3 separate regions of the Homo sapiens genome follow, and all the other regions are linked to region 1. Evidence: fine-mapped expression QTL. A gene starts in region 1. Each other region holds a variant in brackets. All regions are shown on one strand. Distances are from middle to middle.

Evidence for each region. PIP is the estimated chance that this variant, and not a neighbour inherited with it, causes the effect.
Region 2: its variant is fine-mapped to the expression of BAALC in monocytes after Pam3CSK4 (Quach 2016, PIP 0.95). The same link has a PIP of 0.9 or more in monocytes.
Region 3: its variant is fine-mapped to the expression of BAALC in cerebellum (GTEx, PIP above 0.99).

What each region holds. Positions count from the first base shown.
Region 1 is chr8:103,139,150-103,141,912 of GRCh38, reverse strand. BAALC (BAALC binder of MAP3K1 and KLF4) reads right to left here and starts at 1,188. Exons shown (of 3, transcript NM_024812.3): 1 at 856-1,188. The coding sequence starts at 1,015. It overlaps LINC01181 (long intergenic non-protein coding RNA 1181), which reads right to left. Exons shown (of 6, transcript NR_145429.1): 5 at 2,545-2,707; 6 at 1,558-2,040. It overlaps BAALC-AS2 (BAALC antisense RNA 2), which reads left to right and starts at 571. Exons shown (of 2, transcript NR_027071.1): 1 at 571-659. RefSeq lists a silencer at 963-1,152.
Region 2 is chr8:103,079,636-103,082,398 of GRCh38, reverse strand. No RefSeq gene overlaps it. Among named protein-coding and RNA genes, the nearest start is that of LINC01181, 40 kb to the left of the region's middle. The variant C/T (reference allele first, on the strand shown) is at 1,458.
Region 3 is chr8:103,177,539-103,180,301 of GRCh38, reverse strand. The region is part of intron 1 of BAALC (BAALC binder of MAP3K1 and KLF4); the gene reads right to left. Among named protein-coding and RNA genes, the nearest start is that of BAALC-AS1, 6.8 kb to the right of the region's middle. The variant A/G (reference allele first, on the strand shown) is at 1,453.

The DNA of each region.
Region 1 (2,763 bases):
ACTTGTTCTGCTAAAAAATAAAAAAATAAAATAAAATAAAATCCTGACTTATGACCTGACCAGACAATTCTTTGCATCTCCTTTTATCAGATTTCTGCTGGATGAGGAATGACCTAGGCAAGAGTATTTAATTTATAGTCAAAATCCACATGTGTGCCCTGCCTCCTGCAAAGCATTGGGACACCATAGGGTAGGGAGAGAAGTCCTTTGCTATGGAACAACTGCTCCAAAAGTAACCTAAAGTGCAGAACTAGCGATGGGGCGGGGTGCATTTATTTTGACCTAAACTGGGATTCTGGTCTTTGAAGCCCGCGAGTGGGCTCATTTCCTAGAGGGAGAAAAGGGGAAGCGACAAGAAAGACTCCACCCAGGCGATCCCAGGCAGGCGCCTTGTGTATAAATCCAGGGAGAGAGGGGCACCAGGTGGCCAATGGATGAGAAGTCACCCGGCTGGGTACGCAGGTGGCCAGGGGATGGCAGATGGGCCAAAGCGGGGCGGAGGCGGCCCTGGGCGGATCAGGGGGTGGGTGGCTGAGGGATATGTGTGCGGAGGAGGTGGGCTGTCCTCCCACCCACCGGTCTCCCGACCAGCGAGCAAGCTTTGGACAAGGCCAAAGAGCATTGGGCTGCTGGAAGCTGGGGCATCGGCGCAGCCTTCGGTAAGGGGCTCTGGTCGACCCCACTCCCTGGGCTTGCATCTGTCCACTGATCAGTGGGCAGGTCCTGCCTCTGCTTCCTCCCAGCCACCCCCGCCGCGCCATCAATTCCTCAGGGAACCGGCTCCTCTCTCAGTGCCCGGGCCAAGGCGCCCGGGGTAGCGGGCGGGCGAGGGTCTGCAGGGGCCCGGCCACTTACCCGAGTGCAGGCCGCCCGCTTCGGGGCCGCTGTCCGGGGCGGCGGCGCTGGGCGGCGCGTCCGAGTCGGTGTAGGTGAGCCAGGTGGATTCTGTCTCCCGGGTCCAGCTCTCGTAGTAGCGGGGCTCGATGGCATCCGCCCGGCTCCCGCCGCAGCCCATCCTCCTGCGCCGCGGGAGCGCCCAGCGGCTGCTCGGCTGTCGGCTCTGGCGGCGGCTCAGCCCCGGAGGCGCAGCCCCGGCCCGCAAGGAGGCGGCGGCGGCGACATCGCGTCCCCGCTCCCGCCCGCGCTGCAGCCGCGCGGAGCTCCTGCGGTGCCCGCCGCCCCTAGTCCGGGCCCTCTCCCAGCCCGTCCCTCCTCTCCGCCTCCAAGGCCCTCCCTCCCCTCCGGTCCCCACCGCCCAGTCCTCCCTCCCAGCGCCCTGGCCGCCCCAAGGCCCCCGCTCGCCCGCCCCCTCCCTCAGGGCTCCGTGACGGCCCGGGAGCAGGAGCAGCGGCCCCGCAGCCGGAGGAGGGCTGGGGCTCCCGAGGCGCTCGGACCCGTCTGGCCGGCATTACCGTTCCCAGTCTCTGGCCCATCTATCCATCCATCCATCCATCCATCCATCCATCCGCTCACCCGCTCATTCATTCATCCATCCATCCATCCTTCCTTCCTTCTTTCCATCCATCCTGGAAAGAACTGAAACTCTTATCACGGGACCCCAGGCTTTCTGGCCACCTGTTACAAAAGCAATGGAACTGGGAGCAACCCCGCAAAACTGGTCAGGGAGTATTGCCACTAAGACTTAAGGAACAGTCAGAGCCTATGCCTGTCGTATCTGATTTGGGGAGGCAGGAGTAGGGCTATGATTTTTAAGAGAGTTAGGCTAGGCAGTGTCACTTACACCCCTTCCAGCTGTGGTACTTCATGATCCTCTGAACTTTAAACTCGAGAAAGCAATAGATCACCTGGAACCACGCAGCATCCTGAACCCCCTCTCTGGGCAAGGCTTGGAGGCATGGCCGGTCCCTTCAAGCCCAGGGTGGCCTTGACATTCCCGGGATCCAGTTGTCAGCCTTTCTTTTCTCGGTGCACCCTCAGGTCCATGCGGGTTCAGACCTAGAGCTCAGACTTGCGTAGGCCAATGAATTTACCTGTTCCAAGAATCCAGAACAGGTGGTGAAAGATGAAAATCTTCTTAGCCTTCAAGAGGGGGGTAGGAAAGGGAAGGGTTTGGAAGAATAACTCTTCAATGACCAAGCTCTGCTAGAATATGGTATTAAGTATCATATTCATTCATTCATTCATTCAATGTATATTTACTAAATTCCTATTGTGGCAAAAGACTGTTCTAGTAGACATAATACATATATAATATATTTTGTATATTATCCATTGTATGTAGACTATAGGGTGTGATGTTTAATATAGCATGTAAAGCATAGAGAATATAGTACTCATTATATCCTATATAATTTATAGAATGTACGAGAGTACATTGTCTATAACATTTAGCACGTAGCATCCAATAGGTAGGGCAAGTTCAGAGCATTGCCTGGCACAGAGTAGGCCCTCAGTAAATGTCCAGTGAATTAATAATGAAGTATCTTTTTATAGTAATTTGATTCACTTAAATTATTGTAATTTGGGCTAAAGATGATCCAGTTGAGGGTAGAGCTGTCAGACATTCCTCTGGCAGGCACTCACCAGAATCCATAATGTGGAAGGGAGCAAAGATTCATGGAACTGTGGCCAGGGTCTCCTCCTCCTCATGCTGAGCGCAGCACCCGTTCGCACCCCAGGACTCAGGCTGGCCTCCTCTGCAGGCTTTGCTTCTCCTTTTGAGATGGCCTTGACAGGACTCTTCAACCTTGTTTTAGGTGTAAGGTGGAGGGAGTGCAGTTATCCGGGAAGTGGTGGCTTCCC
Region 2 (2,763 bases), 60 kb after region 1:
ACTTACTCAGATACTATAAGAGCTTAAGGAGGGTAGAGGGGTTTACAAAGTTAATCATACATGGCAGGAAGAACTGCTTGTATGTGTCTGTGTCTATATCTTGTTTTTATTACGTCCATTGAGATGAATCAATTAGCACCAAATGATTTTATGTGAGTAAAGAATATTCCATTTAAGCGCAGCTACGATCTAGCTGACTGTGTCAAGGCATTGACAGCCATGTTGGATCACAGCACCCTCCAAAATTAAAAAATACCAAATGCATGACCCCACAGTTCCATGTCATCTTGTGCTAGTTAGTCATTAGTCACTGAGATGTCTTATTTAGGGGGAACAAATGAGTGGTTTCAAATCTATGGCCCTGAAGTAAGAACCAGATGCTAGGTATAGTTTCAAGTCTAGAAGCCCCTAGGTTTTATGGGCCCAAAGCAAGAAGGACATTTCCTGAGTAGGTTGCTGGTTTCTCAAAGCTTGGTGGTAAAGAAATCCTATTGGAAGTGATAAGCATGTTGTTAAGGATTGATGTGACTTGATGTGACTTAATGTGCCATGCACAATCAATGATATTATGTCCTATGTAAAAGAAAGGAATTAATGTACTGGACAATATCCAAGTGTTGAATCTATTTTATGTAATCTTGCAATATAACATGCTGTGCACTCTAATTAGTGCAATTTATGTGCGCATATGCATGGGGAATGGACCTTAATGCACAATAAAACATTTATGTAAAATCAAGCATACATAGCACTAGTACATTATTAATGGGGCAAGGCACGTAATGCAGGTGGAGGGCCTCTTTGGAGGTTAAAAAGAATAAAGAATGTGGAGGAAAATGAAAAGATAGATAGTTCCTCAAATGAGAGGGACATAGGGGTCAGAGAAAAGGGCTGTCTTTTTTTTTTTTTTTGAGACAGGGTCTGGTTCTGTCACCCAGGCTGGAGTGCAGTGATGTGATCCTGGCTCACTGCAGCCTCAACCTCCTGGGCTCAAACCATCCTCCTGTCTCAGCCTCTTGAGTAGCTGAGACTACAGGTGTGCACCACTACGCCTGGCTAATTTTTTTTTTTAATAGAGATGGGGTCTCACTATGTTACTCAGACTGGTCTTGAACTCCTGGGCTCAAGCAATCCTCCCACCTCAGCCTCCCAAAGTGCTAAGATTATAGATGTGAGCCACTGTGCCTGTGAGAGGTGTTTTCTTAATGAAAGAAACAGAACTGTTTATATAATGCAAATAAAAAGGAGAGAATTAAACAGAAAATAGCAGAAAATCATAGGAGCAAACAAAGCGCCAAAGGCCTGTGTGCAGAGGGACGGGTGCTGGGCTGAAGATCAGAGCAGAGTGTGGCATGCAGAAGGGGCAGGGCATGCTGGCTGGAAGAGTACACACCCTCCCAGCACGAGGAGGACCCAGCATGGGGAAGTCTGGGGCATTTAGCACGTGGCACAGTGCC[C/T]AGCACCCAGCACCCAGTGGGCTCCCATGACTACCAAGACCAACTGCTTCAAATTAAATCCCAGTCTTACCATACAGTAGCTGTGTGACCTTAGCAAGGTAAACAACCTCTCCTATCTGGGAAGAGGCCAGATCTTAAGCAAAGCACAAAAGAGCTGGAGTTTTGGAAAGGGACCCTGTGAAAAGGGGAGAAGATTTGGAACAATTCTTGTGAAGAATGGGAGACAGATGACCAGAGACCAGTAAAAAGAATGCACACAAAATGTGGTAAACAGGCATCAGAATGGTATAAATGTAAAAATAATGCCATGGTTAGGAATTGAGATTTCAGTCCCTTTTTTTTTAAATTTGGGTTTAATTTCTGTATATATCAAACAACAAATAACCCAAAGGCCAGGATCGGGGCCTGTTGTAACTGAGAAAGCAAGAGCTGCCTGAGATGTTCATTTTATGCATCAAGTTGACAGGGCCTCAAGGTGCCCAGATGGTCAGTCAAACATTATTCTGGGTGTTTTTGTGAGGGTGTGTTAGTCCGTTTTCAGGCTGCTGATAAAGACATACCCAAGACTAAGCAATTTACAAAAGAAAGAGATTTAATGAACTCACAGTTCCATGTGGCTGGAGAGGCCTCACAATCATGGTGGAGGGTGAAAGGTACATCTCATATGGCAGCAGACAAGAAGAATGAGAGCCAAGTGAAAGGGGTTTCCCCTTATAAAGCCATCAGACCTTGTGAGACTTATTCACTACCATGAGAACAGTATGGTGGAAACCACCTCCATGATTCAATTATCTCCCACTGAGTCCCTCCCACAGCACGAAGGAATTATGGAAGCTACAATTCAAGATGAGATTTGGGTGGGGTCACAGCCCAGCCATATCAGTGTTTTACATGAAATTAACATTTAAATTAGTAGTTGTCTTGAGTAAAGCAGACATAATGTGGGTGGGCCTCACCCAATCAGTTGAAGGGCTGAATAGAATAAAAGACTGACCCTGGTAAGACTGAACTCTCCTGCCTGATGCCTTTGCACTGGGACATCAGCTCTTCTGGGTTCTACAGCAGCTTCCAGCTTTCAGACTCAAACCAGGACATCTACTCAGCAGATTTTGGAGTTGCCAGCCTCTGTAATCATGTGAGCCAGTTTCTTATAATAAACCTCTTCATATACTAGTTCTTGTCTTTGGAGAACTCAGAACTCTGAACTCTTGTCTTTAGAGAACTAACACACTGCCTGACTGCGTGATTTTATCATTTATTGCCCTCAACCTCAGAAAGAATTTGAAATAGCTGCTTAGCTACATAA
Region 3 (2,763 bases), 38 kb before region 1:
GACCACTAACAGTAAACCACGGGCACCACCATGCTCTCAACACTGCTGTGATTTTACCCAGTTGTTCTCTTCTTCCTGGAACTCTAGTTGTCTTAATTTCTCCATCTCAGAATTGCATTCCTCCCACTCGCCCACCCTGTCCTATCTTTGGCCTGATCTCTTGGCTATAAATCTGCTCCTTTCTTCCACTTGTTCTTCACAGCTCCCCATTTCTGCACTCCCCCTGCTTATCATTGTCTTCTGGGCCTCCCAGTAATCCCAGAACCTGGCCCAGGCCTGCACTGTGGGCAGATTCACTTTTGGGCCTCACATTCCCTCTGCGCCAGGAACAACAACTTCCCTCTGCAATGAGTACAACCACCTCTCTTTGATCATGGAGCTGGGAACTCTGGTCCTCATCAGACTCCCTTAGGGCTTATCCCTGAGACTCTAAGGCCATCACAGCCTTCATCCTCAGCCTGCACTACTGAATATCCCTCCCACAGTAATTATTTGCCTACATCCTTATCTCCCCAGGAAGACCATCAGTGCCTCAAGAGCAGGACCTCGTGTTAGCCATCACCTGGCTGTGAGCCCAGCGCAGGGCCTGGCACATAATTGGTACCCACAAAGTTTTAAAGACTTCATAGTGACTGCTTCACATCCATTTGGAAGAAGACAGGATTGAATTGGACACACCCACATGAACTAGCTATGTGACTTTAGCCGAGCCATCTCCACTGGTATTCCTCAGCTGGGAAACAAGGAGGGTGAAGCAGGCCTAGAAAATCTCTAAGGATCCTGTTCTGCTAAAAGTCTGTGACTCCGCATAGAGCACATTGTGCTTCTATTCAGCACAGTGACCCTCCAAATGGTAGTTTTATTTGTGAAGAACAATTATCCAGAGATTGGGATAATGCAGAAAAGATGATTAACGTTATGCTAGGAGCACTTCCCAACAAGCTCACCTAAAGGTGTTCTGGGGCTCCTACCCAGCATGACTTTACCCCCAGTGGACATGTGGAGATGTTTCAGCTGTAGAGGCCACACATGCTACTAAACATCCTACAGTGCCCACGACAGCACCCCCAACAAAGAATTATTTGGGCCCAAAATTTCCATAGTGCTGGAGGCATTGAGAGATCCTGGCCTAGAGCGTGCAACTTGGTTTGCACATTTGATTAGGGCCAAACAGTTTACAATTCTGAGAACTGATCATGCATGATGAGTTTCTTTTCTGTCTGATAGAGAAGAGAACCCCAAAGACTATGGGTTTGGGTTTTGTGGAATTTTTTTGTTTTTGTTTTGTCCTTTAGGATGTAACTAGTTTTGTATTTAATTTAGCAATCTTATCTCAGCTTTCCTTCTTTCCACCAACTATTTTTAAAAGTTTCTCATATTCCCTTTTGTTCTGAGCCATTTATTTATTTTGTTTTTAAATTAACTTTTTTTTTTTTTTTGAGACAGAGTCTC[A/G]CTCTGTATCCCAGGCTGGAGTGCAGTGGTGCAATCTTGGCTCACTGCAACCTCTGCCTCCTGGGTCCCAGTTCAAGCAATTCTCTTGCCTCAGCCTCCTGAGTAGCTGGGATTACAGGCACACGCCACCATACCCAGCTAATTTTTGTATTTTTAGTAGAGACAGGGTTTCACCATGTTGGCCAGGCTGGTCTTGAACTTCTGACCTTGTGATCCGCCCACCTCAGCCTCCCAAAGTGCTGGGATTACAGGCGTGAGTCACTGTGCCCAGCCTAAATTAAACTTTTTATTTCAAAATCATCTATAGATTGTTGTAAGAAATCGTACAGAGTGATCTGTGTGCTCTTTTCTAATTTCCCCCAATGGTAACATCTTACAGAATTGTAGTACAAGATCCTATCCAGGGTACTGACATTGGTACAATCCACCCGTCCTATTTAGATTTCCCCAGGTTTAATTTGTACTCATTTGTATATTTGTACTTAATCCTATATGATTTTATTACATGTGCACTTTTACTTATCCACCACTGCAACCAAGATACAGAACAGCTCCATCACCACAAGGATTCTTCATGTCGCCCTTCTGTTAATCACATTCTCATATTCTCTTTTGAGCTGACTTTATCATCCAGCTGTGACCCTCATCAATGAGTTAAAAAGATAGTGATACCTGCTCACTATTTATTTGTATGATAATTAAGTTTTTAACATTTTGAGAAATATACTTTGATATAGTCCTCTGCTTTTTAATGAAACTACCTATTAAGTAGCAACTTGATAGCTGAGCTCCAATGACAAGACCAGATGGTTCCTAATTTCCCCACCAGAGATTATATTAATGAAAACCATCACTCTACATGCTAGGAACACACAGTGATCTTGAGCAAGCAGCCTAACTTCTATGTGATTTAGTTCCTTCTTCTCTAAAATAATAGCTCTGATTTTAAGGAATTTGTGGAGGATTCAACTAGTTAATATACACAAAGCTCTTAGAATAGTGCATGGCACATATAAATTACAATAAATTTTACGGTATATTATTTTATTTAATGTCCACATCAATCCTATGAGGTAAGAACTCTTGTTACCCTAACACAACAGATAAGAAAACTAGGACTGAGAAAGTTCAAGTAATTTTCCCAAGGTCTCAGCCTAGTAAGAGGTAAAGCAACAATTAGAACTCTAGTCTCTGTGATTCCAAGCACCACCTTGCCCTATTTACTGTGAGAAACTGGAATTTTGTGAGAAATGGAAATGCTGTACTCAGAGTAAAAACCAGAAACTGCGGTCCTAGGGGAACACAGACTGC